Linked DNA regions of Homo sapiens: region 1 is linked to region 2. Evidence: fine-mapped expression QTL. Tissue or cell type: whole blood. Region 2 holds a variant in brackets; the other region holds the start of a gene. All regions are shown on one strand. Distances are between the middles of the regions.

Region 1 (8,078 bases), 34 kb before region 2:
TCAGCCTCCCAAAGTGTTGGGATTATAGGCATGAGCCACTGCGCCCGGCCTATTTACAAAATTTTTTTTTTTAAATAATGTTTTAATTTTGTAGAGATGGTGTCTATGTTGCCCAGGCTGGTCTTGAACTCCTGGGCCCAAGTGATCCTCTCTTGCCCTTGCCTCCCAAAGTGCTAGGATTATAGGTGTGAGCCACTGTGCCTGCCCAACCAATAGAATATTCTTATTATATATGATGCACTCTGGTATTTGCCGTTCTGTGCTATTCTGTTTGAATTTAAAAATTGGTCAAGACCCACCAAACTGATTTCCCCACCAAGGCAGTGACACACATTAGAATGACCTGGAGAATTTTAAAAGATACTGATGCCCAGGCCTCACCCTAGAGATTCTGAAGTGGTTTCAGGACTTTTTCTTAATTAAAAGATAAATAGAGATGAGGTCTCACTATGTTGCCCAGGCTGGTCTCAAACTCCTGGCCTCAAACGATTTCTCCCACCTTGGCCTCCCAAAGTGCTGGGATTAAAGACGTGTGCCAGGCTGGGCATGGTGGCTCACGCCTGTGATCCCAGCACTTTGGGGGGCTGAGGCAGGCGGATCACAAGGTCAGGAGATGAAGACCATCCTGGCTTGATCTGTAGATCAAGTGAAACCCCGTCTCTACTAAAAATACAAAAAAAAAAAAAAAAAAAAAATTAGCCAGGCGTGGTGGCAAGTGCCTGTAGTTCCAGCTACTCAGGAGGCTGAGGCAGGAGAATGGCGTGAACGCAGGAGGCGGAGCTTGCAGTGAGCCTAGATCGCGCCACTGCACTTCAGCCCAGGCAATAGAGCGAGGCTCCATCTCCAAAAAAAAAAAAAAAAAAAAAAGATGTGAGCCAGCCAGTTGCAGGATTTCTGGAAGCTCCCAGGTAATGCTATATACAACCAAAGTGAGAACCACTAACCTAACGTTGTCTCCCCAGCTTGGGGAACAGTGAAATGAGACTTAGAGCCAGGGTGATCCAGGAACATAGAGGGACACAGAAAGATACAAAGGCAGGTTCATTTTATTTATTTATTTATTTATTTATTTATTTATTTATTTAAATTTTTTGAGATGGAGTGTCCCTCTGTTGCCCGGGCTGGAGTGCAGTGGTGTGATCTTGGCTCACTGCAACCTCCGCCTCCTGGGTTCAAGTGATTCTCCTGCCTCAGCCTCCCAAGTAGCTGGGACTACAGGCACCTACCACCACGCCTGGCTAATTTTTGTATTTTTAGTAGAGACGGGGTTTCACCATTGGCCAGGGCGGTCTGAACTCCTGACCTTGTGATCTGCCTGTCTCGGCCTCCCAAAGTGCTGGGATTACAGGCGTGAGCCACCGTGCCTGGCCGATTTATTTATTTATTTATTTATTTATTTTGAGATGGAGTTTCGCTCTTGTTGCCCAGGTTGGAGTGCAATAGTGCAATGTCAGCTCACCGTAACTTCTGCCTCCTGGGTTTACAAGATTCTCCTGCCTCAGCCTACTGAGTAGCTGGGATTACAGGCATGTGCCACCACACCTGGCTAATTTTGTATTTTTAGTGGAGATGAGGTTTCTCCATGTTGGTCAGGCTGGTCTGGAACTCCCGACTTCAGGTGATCTGCCCGCCTCGGCCTCCCAAAGTGCTGGGATTACAGGCATGAGCCACCGCGCCCGGCCTATTTATTTTTTTGAGACAGTCTCACTCTGTTGCCTAGGCTGGAGTGCAGTGGCACAATCTTGGCTCACTGCAATCTCCACCTCTCAGGCTCAAGCGATGTTCCCACCTCAGCCCCCCAGGTAGCTGGGACTACTGGTGCATGCCACTACACCTGGCTAATGTTTGTATGTTTTTGTAGAGACGGGGTTTCGTGGTGTTGCCTAAGCTGGTCTCAAACTCCTGGGCTCAAGCATTCCTCCTGCCTTGGCTTCCCACAGTGCTGGGATTACAGGCGTGAGCCACTGCGTCCATCCAGATTCATGATATTTAGATGTTGAAATGTGGCTTTACAGACTCAGACAGCTCTCTGAGGCAAACAAAGAGGGAGATGCAGGTACCCTCAGCACAAGCCCCAAATTACCTGCAGGGGAGAGGCGGAAAATCAGACAATGTAGAAACCGGGAGAAGAAAGGTATGGACAGACCGATGCAGATAGGAGGGGAAGGAAATACCTGGAAATGAGATAGAGACCGGCTGGACAGACCCCGGGGACCCTGCAGGTCACCACACCCTTCTCTTTCAGCTCACCTGTTCTCCAGGACCAGCCCTGCTGGGGCCCAGGCCCAGGCTCTGAGAGGCCGTGTCCTAACCTGCCCTGGCCCCGGAGAAGCTACGTTGCCACCTGTCCCCCTTCCCTGGCCTGGTGGGGCCTGGCTTTGGGGCAAGACTGAGCCACGGGGGAAGGGGGAATCCCGTACCTGCTGCTGCTTCCTCTGTCTTGGCTAACGTCTGTCCCCCTGAACCCCTAACCATACCCCAAGAGCTCCCAAAGCCTGAGACCAGGGTCATTTGTCCCCAACTCCCCATCTGGCCCTGCTGTTGCTAGTACCTGTTATTTATTACCTGGAGGCCTGTCCAGCACCCACCCTACCCCCATAAAGCATTGTTTACACCTGTGTCTTGGCCTCCATTATTGTGAGATGGCAGGGAGATGGAAGAGGTCCCTGATGGAAGAATCATGTGTCATGGTGTTTGGGGGCCTTGTTTCTGTTTTTTTGTTGTTGTTGTTGAGATGGAGTTTCCTTCTTGTTGCCCAGGCTGGAGTGCAGTGGCGTGATCTTGGCTCACCACAACCTCCACCTCCCGGGTTCAAGCTATTCTCCTGCCTCAGCCTCCCGAGTAGCTGGGATTACAGGCATGTGCCACCACACTTGGCTAATTTTGTATTTTTAGTAGAGATGGAGTTTCTCCATGTTGGTCAAGGTTGGTCTCGAACTCCCAACCTCAGGTGATTCGCCCGCGCTGGCCTCCCAAAGTGCTGGAATTACAGGTGTGAGCCACTGGGCCTGGCCTTGGGGGCCTTGTTTCCTGATTGGACGTGGTGTGGGGTATACCAAGCATGATGACTCAGGTGCCTGTTGCGGAGGGAGGGAATTTGTTACTGTGTGGACAGTTTGTGACAATCTGTGTTCTAAGCTCACGTGTGTAAACACGCTGATGTCCCTGTGTTTGTGACATGTGTACATGTTTCCAGTACCTGCATATGGGATGATGTCTATAGGATATAATGTGTGCTGGTTGTGTGTGATGCTGACAGCCGTAACTGCTCTGTGGCCTTGGTCATTGTATTGGTGAGGCTGGTATTGTTTGGGACATCAAGGCCAGGGGATGGGAATTTGGACCTATAGGTGGGCCTCCGGTGTGTGCATGTCTGATGCCTGAGAGTCAGAGGCAGTGACTCACTACTGCGTGTGTGCCTGTGCATGTGTACCCCGAGGTCTGTGTGTGTTTTGGTGTGAATTTGGCTCCTTTTAAACACCCATGTGTGGCCAGGCGTGGTGGCTCATGCCTGTAATCCCAGCACTTCGGGAGGCCAAGGCAGATGGATCACTTGAGCCCAGGAGTTGGAGACTATAGCCTGGGCAACACAGAGAGACCCTATCTACAAAAATAAAAAACAGAAAAAGTTAGCCAGGTGTCGTGGTACACACCTGAAGTCCCAGCTATTCCGGAGGCTGAGGTGTGAGGATCACTTTAGTTGGGAGGTTGGGCCTGCAGTGAACTATGATCATGCCACAGCACTTCAGCCTGGGCAAAAGGGTAAGACCCCATCTCAAAAACAAAACTAAACTAGAAACACCCTTGTGTGGCCATGAACCCTGTGTGTGCCCTGAGGACTGCGGGCTTTTGTGCAATCCTCACGCATGTGTGGATACCAGTATGCATGCCCTTGTGCTCACGCGAACCGCCCTACGCCCTCAGGTGGCCTGCAGGGGACTGGTGCAGCCCCGAGGACACTCCCAGTTGCTCGTCGCCCTCCCATCTCCACGTCGGCCTTCACCGACCCGGCGGGAGCCTTGAGTCCCAGCTCTCCAGAGCAATGGTGGAGCGGGCAGGGCATTCAAAATGACCTTATCTCCTTAGTCTCCTAAAGTGTTCCCAGCTGGCCATGCAAATGTCTTCTCTGTGTAGCGTTCCGTGGATTTTTTTTTGTTTCATTTTTTAATTTTGTGTAAAGATAAGGTCTCACTCCGTTGCCCAGACTTTCCCTGGTTCTTTATTCTGATTCCCACAATCGTCCCGAGGGGGCAGGCCGGAGCGGGTCTTGAAAATACACATTTGCACATCCCTTCTAGTCCGCGTTCCCTTTTCTCAAGGGCAACCCGCACTTTTTTGCCTCCGTTATAAAAGATACTTATGTAAATTACTGACGTGCGAATTTACATACATTTCTCAACTAACTGCGTAGCCATTTCTCCGTCTCTCACCTCCGTTCCTGGACGGCGAGAAGGAGGAGGAGCTGACCATGTAAATGAAGTCACGCGCACCGCGCTGCCGAACTCGGTGCCCCGCGCTGGGCGGGGGGCGGGTAGGCCTGTCCATGTAAATCACATCATTTGCGTGCCCCGCCCCGCCGACGCCACTTGATTCCAACATGCAAGAAACGCCCCCTCCCAGACCCGGCCCCTCACACTGCGTTCCCCCTCCCGCGCAAAGGGGGCGGGGCGGAGGATGCAAATGAACCTCGTGTAGGCCACGGACCGCTGTTTCCTTTCTCCTTGGTAGGGGGGTTGTCCCGAACTTCCTCGCCCCGCTCCGCCCCGCCCCGCGCGGCTCGGGCCTGCGCAGGCGCCGTCCCCTCCGCGGGGCGCGGTCACGTGCCCACCGGGCGAGGCGGGGCGGGGCGTCGCGCGCGGTGGGGGCGGGGTATGGCGCGCTGTGCGGCGCAGGGCGGCTGGCACAAACGGCGGCGCCGGGGCCGGAGGAAAAAGCTCGGTGAGGAGGTCGCGGGGCGAGAAGGGAGCGGGAGGAGACTAAGCCGGAGCCGGGGCGCCGGCGCGAACCGGGCGGGGTGTGGGGGCGCGCGCCGGGGCCTGCCGGGGCGACCCCGGGAAGGGGGATGTGGGTGCGGCGCGGGGGAGGGGACGCGCGCCGGTTACGTTGGGTGCCGGCCGTTGTGGGGGTTGGGGTGGGGGCGGGGAGCGCGCGCCGGGCGGAGGCCGAGTGGAGGGGGAGGGGAGGGGGTCCGAGCGGCCCTTAGGCCCTGCCCCTGTCGCCTACTGCGCTCAGAAGGGGCCTCAGGGCCTGCCCCGGGTTGGGGGCGTTGGGGTGCCCTGGATGGGGGCACCTTTATCTCTCGTCCTGTCTCCGGGTGCGTGCACCCTCCTCCGTCCTTTCCTCTGTCGCCGCGGACCCTCTCCCCGAGGGCCCCTCCCGTCGGTCAGTCTCGGGACCTCCCTTCCGTCTGGGCGTGTGTCCGCCCCCGGCCGGCTTCCTCCCGTCGGGCTCGGGTCGACCCCACCGTCCCGCTCCGCCCCGGGTCCTCCCTCCCAGCTTCCCTCCGGTCTATTTTTCTGTCTCTGGGCCCCTCGTTCTCTTTGTTTTTGGACTCCCCAGTTTCCTCTGTCTTTTGACCCCCCCGCCCCCACCCTGACTCTCCCTGGAACCCCCACGTTTCTCGTTGTCTTTCTGGAACGCCGAGGCAGGTCCCTCCTATTTTCCAAACCCCCTCCTTTCCCACTCCTCCACACCACCCTTTTCTACTCCAGCCCTCCTTCTTCTGTCTTTGGTTACCGCGTCCCACAACCTGCACCACAGTCCTCTGTCTTAGGGTCATCTACCCAGCCCCTGGCCTCCAGCCTCTCCCTATCACTGCCTCTTATCTGTCAGCGGACTCCCGCACCTCCAGATTCTCAGGGTCCTCTCCCCGACTTGGCCTCAGGTTTTGGGGGGCCTCTATAGTCAAGTCTGTCCTGGTCGTCTTCCCCACTCCTGCCCATACCATCCCGGCTTTCCCCTGCCTGCCTGTCTCTAGTTTCTCTCACATCCCTTTTTTTTTTTCCTTTCTCTAGCCACCCTGAAGGGTCCCTTCCCAAGCCCTTAGGGACCGCAGAGGACTTGGGGACCAGCAAGCAACCCCCAGGGCACGAGAAGAGCTCTTGCTGTCTGCCCTGCCTCACCCTGCCCCACGCCAGGCCCGGTGGCCCCCAGCTGCATCAAGTGGAGGCGGAGGAGGAGGCGGAGGAGGGTGGCACCATGGGCCCGGGCGGTGCCCTCCATGCCCGGGGGATGAAGACACTGCTGCCATGGACAGCCCGTGCCAGCCGCAGCCCCTAAGTCAGGCTCTCCCTCAGTTACCAGGGTCTTCGTCAGAGCCCTTGGAGCCTGAGCCTGGCCGGGCCAGGATGGGAGTGGAGAGTTACCTGCCCTGTCCCCTGCTCCCCTCCTACCACTGTCCAGGAGTGCCTAGTGAGGCCTCGGCAGGGAGTGGGACCCCCAGAGCCACAGCCACCTCTACCACTGCCAGCCCTCTTCGGGACGGTTTTGGCGGGCAGGATGGTGGTGAGCTGCGGCCGCTGCAGAGTGAAGGCGCTGCAGCGCTGGTCACCAAGGGGTGCCAGCGATTGGCAGCCCAGGGCGCACGGCCTGAGGCCCCCAAACGGAAATGGGCCGAGGATGGTGGGGATGCCCCTTCACCCAGCAAACGGCCCTGGGCCAGGCAAGAGAACCAGGAGGCAGAGCGGGAGGGTGGCATGAGCTGCAGCTGCAGCAGTGGCAGTGGTGAGGCCAGTGCTGGGCTGATGGAGGAGGCGCTGCCCTCTGCGCCCGAGCGCCTGGCCCTGGACTATATCGTGCCCTGCATGCGGTACTACGGCATCTGCGTCAAGGACAGCTTCCTGGGGGCAGCACTGGGCGGTCGCGTGCTGGCCGAGGTGGAGGCCCTCAAACGGGGTGGGCGCCTGCGAGACGGGCAGCTAGTGAGCCAGAGGGCGATCCCGCCGCGCAGCATCCGTGGGGACCAGATTGCCTGGGTGGAAGGCCATGAACCAGGCTGTCGAAGCATTGGTGCCCTCATGGCCCATGTGGACGCCGTCATCCGCCACTGCGCAGGGCGGCTGGGCAGCTATGTCATCAACGGGCGCACCAAGGTAAGGCTAGGTGGGGGCCTCTTTGGAGGGGCTTTGCAGCACCCTGGTTTGCAGCATTCAGTGCTCTGAGCACAGTGGGTTTGGAGACAGGCTTCTGGGAGGTCACAGAAGGTTTAGGCAGTTCAGTGGAGTGGGTATGCTTACTTGTGGGGACTTGGGGGGGTCTTTATCCTCCCTACGGGCCTTAATGTGTGCACCTGATAAGCTAGGAGTTTGTCCTGGAGCCACAGTGGTTCTTTTTTTTTTTTTTTTTTTTTTCTTTTCTTTTTTTATTGATCATTCTTGGGTGTTTCTCGCAGAGGGGGATTTGGCAGGGTCACAGGACAATAGTGGAGGGAAGGTCAGCAGATAAACAAGTGAACAGAGGTCTCTGGTTTTCCTAGGCAGAGGACCCTGCGGCCTTCTGCGTGTTTGTGTCCCTGGGTACTTGAGATTAGGGAGTGGTGATGACTCTTAACGAGCATGCTGCCTTCAAGCATCGCCACAGTGGTTCTTGACTTTGCCAGGAACCCTCTTAAACTCATGAGAGCTGCTGACATTCACAGCGTGGACCTTGGTGGGGTTCATGGCCTCCTGGTGTCAGTCTGTGGCCCCAGACCAAGCACGGGGATGTAGATAGGCACACAGTTCACCTGGCCGTTCTCTGTTGCTGTCTGTCCCTGTCCACATCCTTCCCTGTGCTCCTGTCGTCCATCCCTGTTTGCTGGCCCATGTTTCTAGTCCATCCATCCTGTCTCCAAGGCAGGAGAAGCAGAAGGGGGAGGGTGGCTGTGATGAGTGAGCCCTGGGCTGAGGGAAGGAAAGGGGTGCTGCCCGCTGGGCCGAGTGCTTGGCCCTGGACTGCATTGTGCCCTGGGTCCCCACTGTGGCATCTGCATCGAGGACAGTCTCCTGGGGGTGGTACTGGGTGGCTGCCTGTTGGCCCAGGTGGAGCTCATCCCCATGTCTCCCACCCTTCACTGTCCCAGTCCCTGCCCTCCATTCCCC
Region 2 (8,079 bases):
ATCAGTTGAGCTCAGGAGGTCAAGGCTGCAGTGAGCCAAGACCATACCACTGCACTCCAGCCTGGGCAACAAGAGTGAAGCTTCATTTCAAACAAACAAACAAACAATCAAACAAGTAAACAAACAGACCCCAAACTATTATTTTACTTCTGGGGCCCAGAATTCCAAAATCAGCTTCACTGGGATAAAGTCAAGGTGTCAGCAGGGCTGGTACCTCCTGGAGCCTTGATAAGAGGATCCATTTCCTCGCCTTTTCAGCTTCTGGTCGCCCCTTTATTCCTTTGTGCGAAGCCCCTTCATCCATCTTCAAAGCACATCACTCCAGTCTCTGCTTCCATCCTCACATTGTCTCTCTCTGGCTCTTCCTGCACTCCTCTTTTTTTAAAATTAATATTGCCACATTATTTTAAATTATGTACAAAGACCTAACATGTCACTCAGGGACCATTTCACCCACTGCTCTATTTAGCCGCCAGTCTCTTCAGCAATGGTGAGGGTTTGGTGTACACATTATTTCATCACCCAGGTAATAAGCATAGCACCCGACAGGTAGTTTTTCGGTCCTCACCCTCCTCCCATCTTACCCTCAAGTAGGCCCTGCTGTTTGTTGTTCCCTTTTTTGTGTCAATGTGTAGTCAATGTTCAGCTCCCACCTATAAGTGAGAACCTGTGGTGTCTGGTTTTCTGTCCCTGCATTAGTTCACTTAGGATAGTGGCTTCCAGCTCCATCTATGTTGCTGCAAAAGACATTATCTTGTTCCTTTTTATGGCTGTGTAGTATTCCATGGTGTATATATACCACATTTTCTGTCTTTCTCCTTCCTTCCTTCCTTCCTTCATTCCTTCTCTCTCTCTCTCTTTCTTTCTTTCAGACAGAGTCTTGCTCTGTTGCCCAGGCTGGAATGCAGTGGTGTGATCTCATCTCACTGCAACTTCTGCCTCCTGGGTTCAAGTGACTTCTCCTGCCTGAGCCTCCCAAGTAGCTGGGAATACAGGTGCCCGCTACTATGCCTGGCTAATTTTTTTGTATTTTTAGTAGAGACGGGGTTTCACCATGTTGGACAGGCTTGGTCTCGAACTACCGACCTCACGTAATCCACCCACCTTGGCCTCCCAAAGTGCTGGGATTACAGGCGTGAGTCACCACGCCCAGCCCACATTTTCTTTATCCAGTCTACCACTGATGGGCATTTAGGTTGATTCCACATCTTTGCTATTGTGAACAGTGCTGCTGTGAACAAAGGTGTGCACGTGTCTTCATGGTAGAACGATTGATATTCCTTTGTGTATATACTCAATAATGAGATTGCTGGGTCGGATGGTAGTTCTATTTTAAGTTTTTTTAGAAATCACCAAACTACTTTTCACAGTGGCTCTTGGCTTAAATTTGGAAGCAGAGGTACACTCCCTTTACACCTGATTTTTAAATTTCTTTTCTCCTTGATCAGATAATATGTTGACACTATCCAAAATTCAAAAGATACAAAATGATGGAAAGTGAAATTTCTTCAACCCAGTTTCCCTTGCCAAGTTGATACTAATGTTACCAGTTTCCAGGTTATTCCATACACAAATATACAAATAGTAACTTACTATATCCACTGTATCTGTCAGGTTGGGTTGGAATTTTTTTTCTTTTTCTTTTAAGACCGTCTCACTCTGTCTTTCAGGCTGCAGTGCAGTAGGGCAATCTTGGCTCACTGCGACCTCTGCCTCCCGGGCTCAAGTGATTCTTGGGCCTCAGCCTCCTGAGTAGCTGAGATTACAGGTGTGTGCCACCACACCTGGCTATTTTTTGTATTTTTAGTAGAGACAGGGTCTTGCCATGTTGGCCAAGCTGGTCTTGAATTCCTGGTCTCATGATCTGCCCACCTCAGCCTCCCAAAGTGTTGGGATTAGAGGTGTGAGCTCCTGGCCATTGTGCTGGGTATTCTATTTGCCCTACCATCTCCACTCTCCACCATGACCTGTCTTTTAGAAGGGTGGCCTCTATAAACTGTACCACCCATGCTCCCTTCACCTCTACATTAAAAAAATTTTTGGGTTTGGCCAATGGAAGTTTGAGAGAAGAGCAATGTCAGATTATTTTGCTTGGCTGTGTGATAGCAATGGTTGTATTCCTCTGCCAGAAACCATGCCCTCCTGCTGGGGGCTCTCTTTTACCCCTATACAATCAGTCTCGGTTTCGGAAACTACTCCCTCTCACTGCACCTTTCAACCTAAGGATGATGATGGCGTCTCCTTATTGTAAGCCATAGAGTGCTTCAACGTCTTGTAGGGTTCTTTCACACTGCCCTCCACTTTGTAAAAAGTCCCTCCATTGGCCAGGCGCGGCGGCTCACACCTGTAATCCCAGCACTTTTGGAGGCCGAGGCGGGCGGATGACGAGGTCAGGAGATCGAGACCTTCCTGGCTAACATGGTGAAACCCTGTCTCTACTAAAAACACAAAAAATTAGCCGGGCGTGGTGGCGGGTGCCTGTAGTTCCAGCTACTCGGGAGGCTGAGGCAGGAGAATGGCCTGAACCCGGGAGGCGAAGCTTGCAGTGAGCTGAGATCGCGCAATTGCACTCCAGCCTGGGCGAAACAGCGAGACTCCGACTCAAAAAAAAAAGTCCCTCCATTAAGCACTCATATTTTTCTGCTGGGGTTCTGATGGACCAAGTCTATCAAATGAATGCATCATAATTTGTTTAACCAATATCTTGGTGCATATGTTGGTTTCCTATTTTTCATTATGTAAACAGTTCTTTGATGAATCTAGGTGATTTTGCACACTTTCTTGTACATCATAGGAGACATTACTAGAAGTGGAGTTAACTGAATCTGAGAGTATGTTCTTTTGTAATTTAGAGAAAAGCATTCACATTACTCTCCTCTGAAGCTGTACCAATTTATAGTTCCACAAACCGTAACTGAGAGTAAGGATTGCTCTGGGAGGCTGAGGTGGTAGTGGATACTAGCCTGGGCCCTATAGCGAGACACCATCTATACAAAAACATTAAAAAAAGTTCTACTACTAGGGTGTGGGAGAATGCACCTGTGGTCCCAGCTGCTTGGGAGGCTGAGGTGGGAGGATTGCCTGAGCCAGGGGGTTAAGGCTGCAGTGAATTATGATTGTGACACTGCATTCCAGCCTGGGTGACAGAGCAAGACACTGTCTCAAAAAGACAAAAAAACCCACCCCAAACAACCAACAAAATTGGAGGCCATGATTTCACACCCAGTGATCCTAATAGCTCAAATTTTGAATTAGAGACTGTGGTTTTAACATCTGCTAAATTCCTTATGTTGAGGAATCACTGAGTCAAAGGTTTCAGCCTCTTTCCAAGGGGGAGAGCACGTGGACAATTACATCTCATGCAGGCATTTGGTTTTATGGACTCACGTGCTTGTTACAAAACCAGACACAGCTTTAGGGCTTCTTATTACCTTCCCCCACCCGTCCTTGGTAGAAGAGTCAACAAATGACATCTAAGCTGCCAACACATATTGGAAAATGTTTGAAACTTGAGATCTGTGGTTTATTATGAAACAGGCAGTGCCCTGGAGTTTGAATTTTTTCCCAGTTGGTCTTAGTACCCTGTCTGCAGATTGAGGGGAAAGGGCAGGAAGGGGAGTAAATGTAGTTAAGAGCATAGCCTCAGCTGGGTGTGGTGGCTCACGCCTGTAATCCCAGCACACTGGGAGGCCAAGGAGGGTGGATCGCTTGAGGTCACAAGTTCAAGACCAGCTTGGTCAACATGGTGAAACCCCCATCTCTACTAAAAAATACAAAAGTTAGCCAGGTGTGGTGGTAGGTGCCTATAATCCTAGCTACTCGGGAGGTTGAGGCAGGAGAGTCACTTGAACCCGGGAGGCAGAGGTTTCAGTGAGCCGAGATTGTGCCACTGCATTCCAGCCTGGGTGACAGAGTGAGACTGTCTCAAAAAAAAAAAAAAAAAGCATAGCCTCTAGAGTCAAACAGATCTGACTACTACATCTGTGCTAGGTACTTTCAGTGGTTGAATCTTAATGATTCTGACTCTGTTTGCTCACATGTAAAATGTGGATGATCATAGAACCTTTATCACAGATTTGTGAAGACTGCATTGCACACTCCATGAAAAGTTATCCTTAGCACAGCATCAGGCACAGGGAAGCTCAACGCCTTGAAGGTGCTGTTTTTATTTCTAGGTCCCTAAGATCTTCCT[C/T]GTCCTCCTTATGGCTCCCCCCTTTATTCTCCATATTTGTTCCTTCCTTGAAAGTCAAGGGTGCAGGAAGAAGATGATATCCTGGAGGCCAAGCCCACACAATTAGGACATGTGGTGGACATTCACCTGTTCTTAGATCCACTGCTGCTCTTCCTCTGCTTGTCTATCACAAGGGGCTGACACCTGCACACTAATTCTGTCTTGAGGGAGACTGTGTAGGGGAACATGGCCATTTGAGTTCATTAGGAAAGGGTTTTGAGGTCAGGACATGGGTATCTGGTGTACATGGGAGTTTGGTGGCCTCTATTGTAGGAGGCTTTGGAAATGTGTATTGTTGGGAGGTCCTGAGGGAGGAAGTTTGGGATGAACATGGAGATTCTAGGCTGTGGAGGAAGATGTAACATGGCTATTGGAGGATTCTGGGACCTTACCTTGGTACCTTGGTACCTTGGTAATGAGGACATCTTCAGCTTTATTTTTATGTATTTACTTTTTTTTGAGATGGAGTCTCACTCTGTCACCCAGGTTCGAGTGCAGTGGCGTGATCTCAAAATACTAAAAATTAGCTGGCTGTGTTGGTGGGCACCTGTAGTCCCAGCTACTTGGGAAGCTGAGGCAGGAGAATCGCTTGAACCTGGGAGGCAGTGGTTGCAGTGAGCTGAGATCACGTGGCTGCACCTCAGCCTGGGTGACAGAGTGAGACTCTGTCTCAAAAAAAAAAAAAATGTTCATCCCTCAGCTGCTCAGCCGGCAGTCGTTCTTTTCTCAGTAGCTGTTTTCTCCTCAGCTTTGTGGAGTCTTTCCCTCAGCCTGTGCAGCTCTGTATTCAGCCAATGATTTGAGGCCACTGTAAGCAGCTCTTTCCCTTTGGAGCTCTTTTTGTAAGCAAAAGCTCAGTTTCTTACGTAAGAAAACCCAATTCCCCTTGAGGAAGAGAAAGAGCTGGAGTCCTTTAAAATTAACTGCCTGTTTTTCTGTGGCTAGGGAGCCTTATCTCTCCCTTTGCCAGGCATTGTGAAGACTCTGTTTCTCTAGCTGTGCAGCTGCAAGGTCACTAGACAGATAATCTCAAGTCGTAAAATATGCCGTTCCTTGAAAAGTAAGAAATGATGTAATGCATGTCTCTACTGAATAAGTGTCTTTGTTTCTCGCTTCTGTTGTATGCTTCCCCCTGCACAGATCTCTTCCTGCCCCAGAAATGCTTAAAAGGTAACTGGACTCTTTGTTTGGGGCTCAGTCATTTTGGATGTTGATCTGACTGGGCCGGTGCACCTAAATAATAATAAGAAATCCTCCTCAACCCCTCAGTCTCTCTGATTCCTAAATTATCTCACTGCAAAGGCAGGAGAATTGCTTGAGCCCAGGAGTCTGAGACCAACCTGGGCAACATAGTGAGACCCTGTCTCTACAAAAGATTAAAAAATTAGCCAGGCATTGTGGCGCATGCCTGTGGTCCCAGCTACTCGGGAGGCTGAGGTGGAAGGATTGCTTGAGCCCAAGAGGTCCTGGCTATGGTGAGCTATGATCACACCACTGCCTTCCAGCCTGAGTGACAGAGCAAGACCTTGTCTCAAAAAAAAAAAAAAAAAAAATTGGGCTGGGCATGATGCCCCAGGCCTGTAATCCCAGCACTTTGGGAGGCTGAGGTTGGTGGATCACCTGAGGTCAGGAGTTCAAGACCAGCCTGTCAAACGTGGTGAAACCCTGTCTCTACTGAAAAATACAAAAATTAGCCAGGTGTGGTTGTGTGCACCTGTAGTCCCAGCTACTCGGGAGGCTGAGACAGGGGCCTAGGATTAAATAAGGAGTTTTGGCAAAACTAGGCTGGAACTCCAAAACCTGCTACATAAGTACTCACGAGGGTTGCTAGTTATTAGTATTATTACTTTGTTGTTATTTGGCTCTGGTCAGATTTCAATTAACGTCACAATAGGATTTAAACATTTCTTTTATTATTTTTAAGATTTTAGGCCAGGCGCACTGGTTCCCAGCACGTTGGGAGGCCGACGGGGGTGGATCACCAGAGGTCAGGGGTTGGAGACCAGCGTGGCCAACACAGTGAAACCCCTTTTTTACTAAAAATACAAAAAAATTAGCTGGGCGTGGTGGCATATGCCTGTAACCCCAGCTATTCGGGAGGCTGAGGCCAGGAGTTTGAGACTAGCCTGGGGAAATAGTGAGACCTTGTCTCTACCAAAACAAAACAAAACAACCAACAACATTAGGCCAGGCGTGGTGGCTCACACCTGTAATCCCAGTACTTTGGGGGGCTGAGGCGGGTGGTGGATTGCCTGAGGTCAGGGGTTTGAGACCAGCCTGGGCAACATAGTGAAACTCTGTCTCTACTAAAATACAAAAATTAGCTGGGCATGGTGGTGGGCACCTGTAATCCCAGCTACTTGGGAGGCTGAGGCAGGAGAATCGCTTGAACCTGGGAGGCGGAGGTTGCAGTGATCCATGATCCGGCCATTGCGCTCCAGCCTGGGTGACGAAAGTGAAATTCCATCTCAAAAAAAAAAAAAGTTAGCTGGATGCTGGATGTGGTGGCATGTGCCTATAGTCAGCCACTCAGAAGGCTGAGGTGGGAGGATCACTTGAGCCTAGGAGTTCAAGGCTGCAGGGAGCCGTGATCATACCACTGCACTCCAGCCTGGGCAACACAGCAGACTCTGTCTCAATTAAAAAAAAAAAAAGCGCAGAAGAATATTGGTTTATGGAGAGTATTATTTTAAGTTTTAGAAATTTTCTATGCAAAACAAACAATGGAAAATAAGAAATGCATTACTCTATAATAAAATATAGCCTTTTCTCTCCCATATATATATATGAGTGGATAAAAACAGTCATAACTTCCTACACATTTAATCCTCTATACTAACTCTCATACCCACTTACCACTCCCTCAATGACAAACATACCAAAAAGATGCTAAATAAATGAAAACAATACTTTGTATTCTTAACTATGTAAAGTATTGTACTTAACAGGTATTTTCTTGGCTGACTGGTTCTCCATACCCAACAAACACAGTGATGTCAACTCTCACCACTCATATTAAACAATATAGCCATTGCTGTAAAGTACAAAAGAGAAATGCAGTACAAATTGAAAAGGAGGAAATAAAACTTTTATTCATCGCTGATATTATCAGATACATAAAATCCCAAGGAGACAAAAGCTACTACTAATGAGATTAGAAGGATCCCAGAAACAGACACAGACGTGCACACACACCTCCCCACAGACACAGATACACACTCACAACACACTCAGAAGTACATTTTATTTTATTTTGAGACAGTCTCGCTGTGTCACCCAGGCTGGAGTGCAGTGGCTCCATCTCAGCTCACTGCAACCTCCGCCTCCTGGGTTCAAGCGATTCTCCTGCCTCAGCCTCCCCAGTAGGTGGGATTACAGATGTGCACCACCATGCCCGGCTAATTTTTTGTATTTTTAGTAGAGATGGAGTTTCACCATGTTGGCCAGGCTGGTTTTGAACTCCTGACCTCAAGTGATCCACTCGCTTTGGCTTCACAAAGTGCTAGGATTACAGGTGTGAGCCACCACACCCAGCCAGAAGTATCTTTTAAACAGGATTTTTAAAAGTGGGAGTTGACCCTTTCCAAAATCTGGAGTTGGGATGGGCATTAGTGGTTTGGAGAGGAAAGAGCAGGTGTGTTGTGGCTGGGAGGCGATTCCTTTCAGCACCTTGGGTGATGTCTGAGGCCATACCCACTTTCTGTGCTATTTTTGGGATTATGATGATTAACCCACACTCCCTTTGTTCCTCCCATGTAACCTGGATTCTTGGGCATTCAACCAATATTAAACCCTTCCTCTGAAAAATTCCTGGATTGACAAGAGCACACTGGACCCATTTCCATTCC

Evidence for each region. PIP is the estimated chance that this variant, and not a neighbour inherited with it, causes the effect.
Region 1: it holds the start of EGLN2, and the variant in region 2 is fine-mapped to the expression of EGLN2 in whole blood (TOPMed, PIP above 0.99).

The regions. Positions count from the first base shown.
Region 1 is chr19:40,794,325-40,802,402 of GRCh38, forward strand. EGLN2 (egl-9 family hypoxia inducible factor 2) reads left to right here and starts at 4,867. Exons shown (of 6, transcript NM_080732.4): 1 at 4,867-4,938; 2 at 6,015-7,091. The coding sequence starts at 6,249. RAB4B (RAB4B, member RAS oncogene family) reads left to right here. Exons shown (of 8, transcript NM_016154.5): 8 at 2,246-2,618. It overlaps MIA-RAB4B (MIA-RAB4B readthrough (NMD candidate)), which reads left to right. Exons shown (of 10, transcript NR_037775.1): 10 at 2,246-2,620. RAB4B-EGLN2 (RAB4B-EGLN2 readthrough (NMD candidate)) reads left to right here. Exons shown (of 12, transcript NR_037791.1): 8 at 6,015-7,091. RefSeq lists silencers at 4,645-5,004, 5,155-5,204 and enhancers at 6,628-7,302, 7,481-8,078.
Region 2 is chr19:40,828,615-40,836,693 of GRCh38, forward strand. No RefSeq gene overlaps it. Among named protein-coding and RNA genes, the nearest start is that of CYP2A6, 18 kb to the right of the region's middle. The variant C/T (reference allele first, on the strand shown) is at 4,193.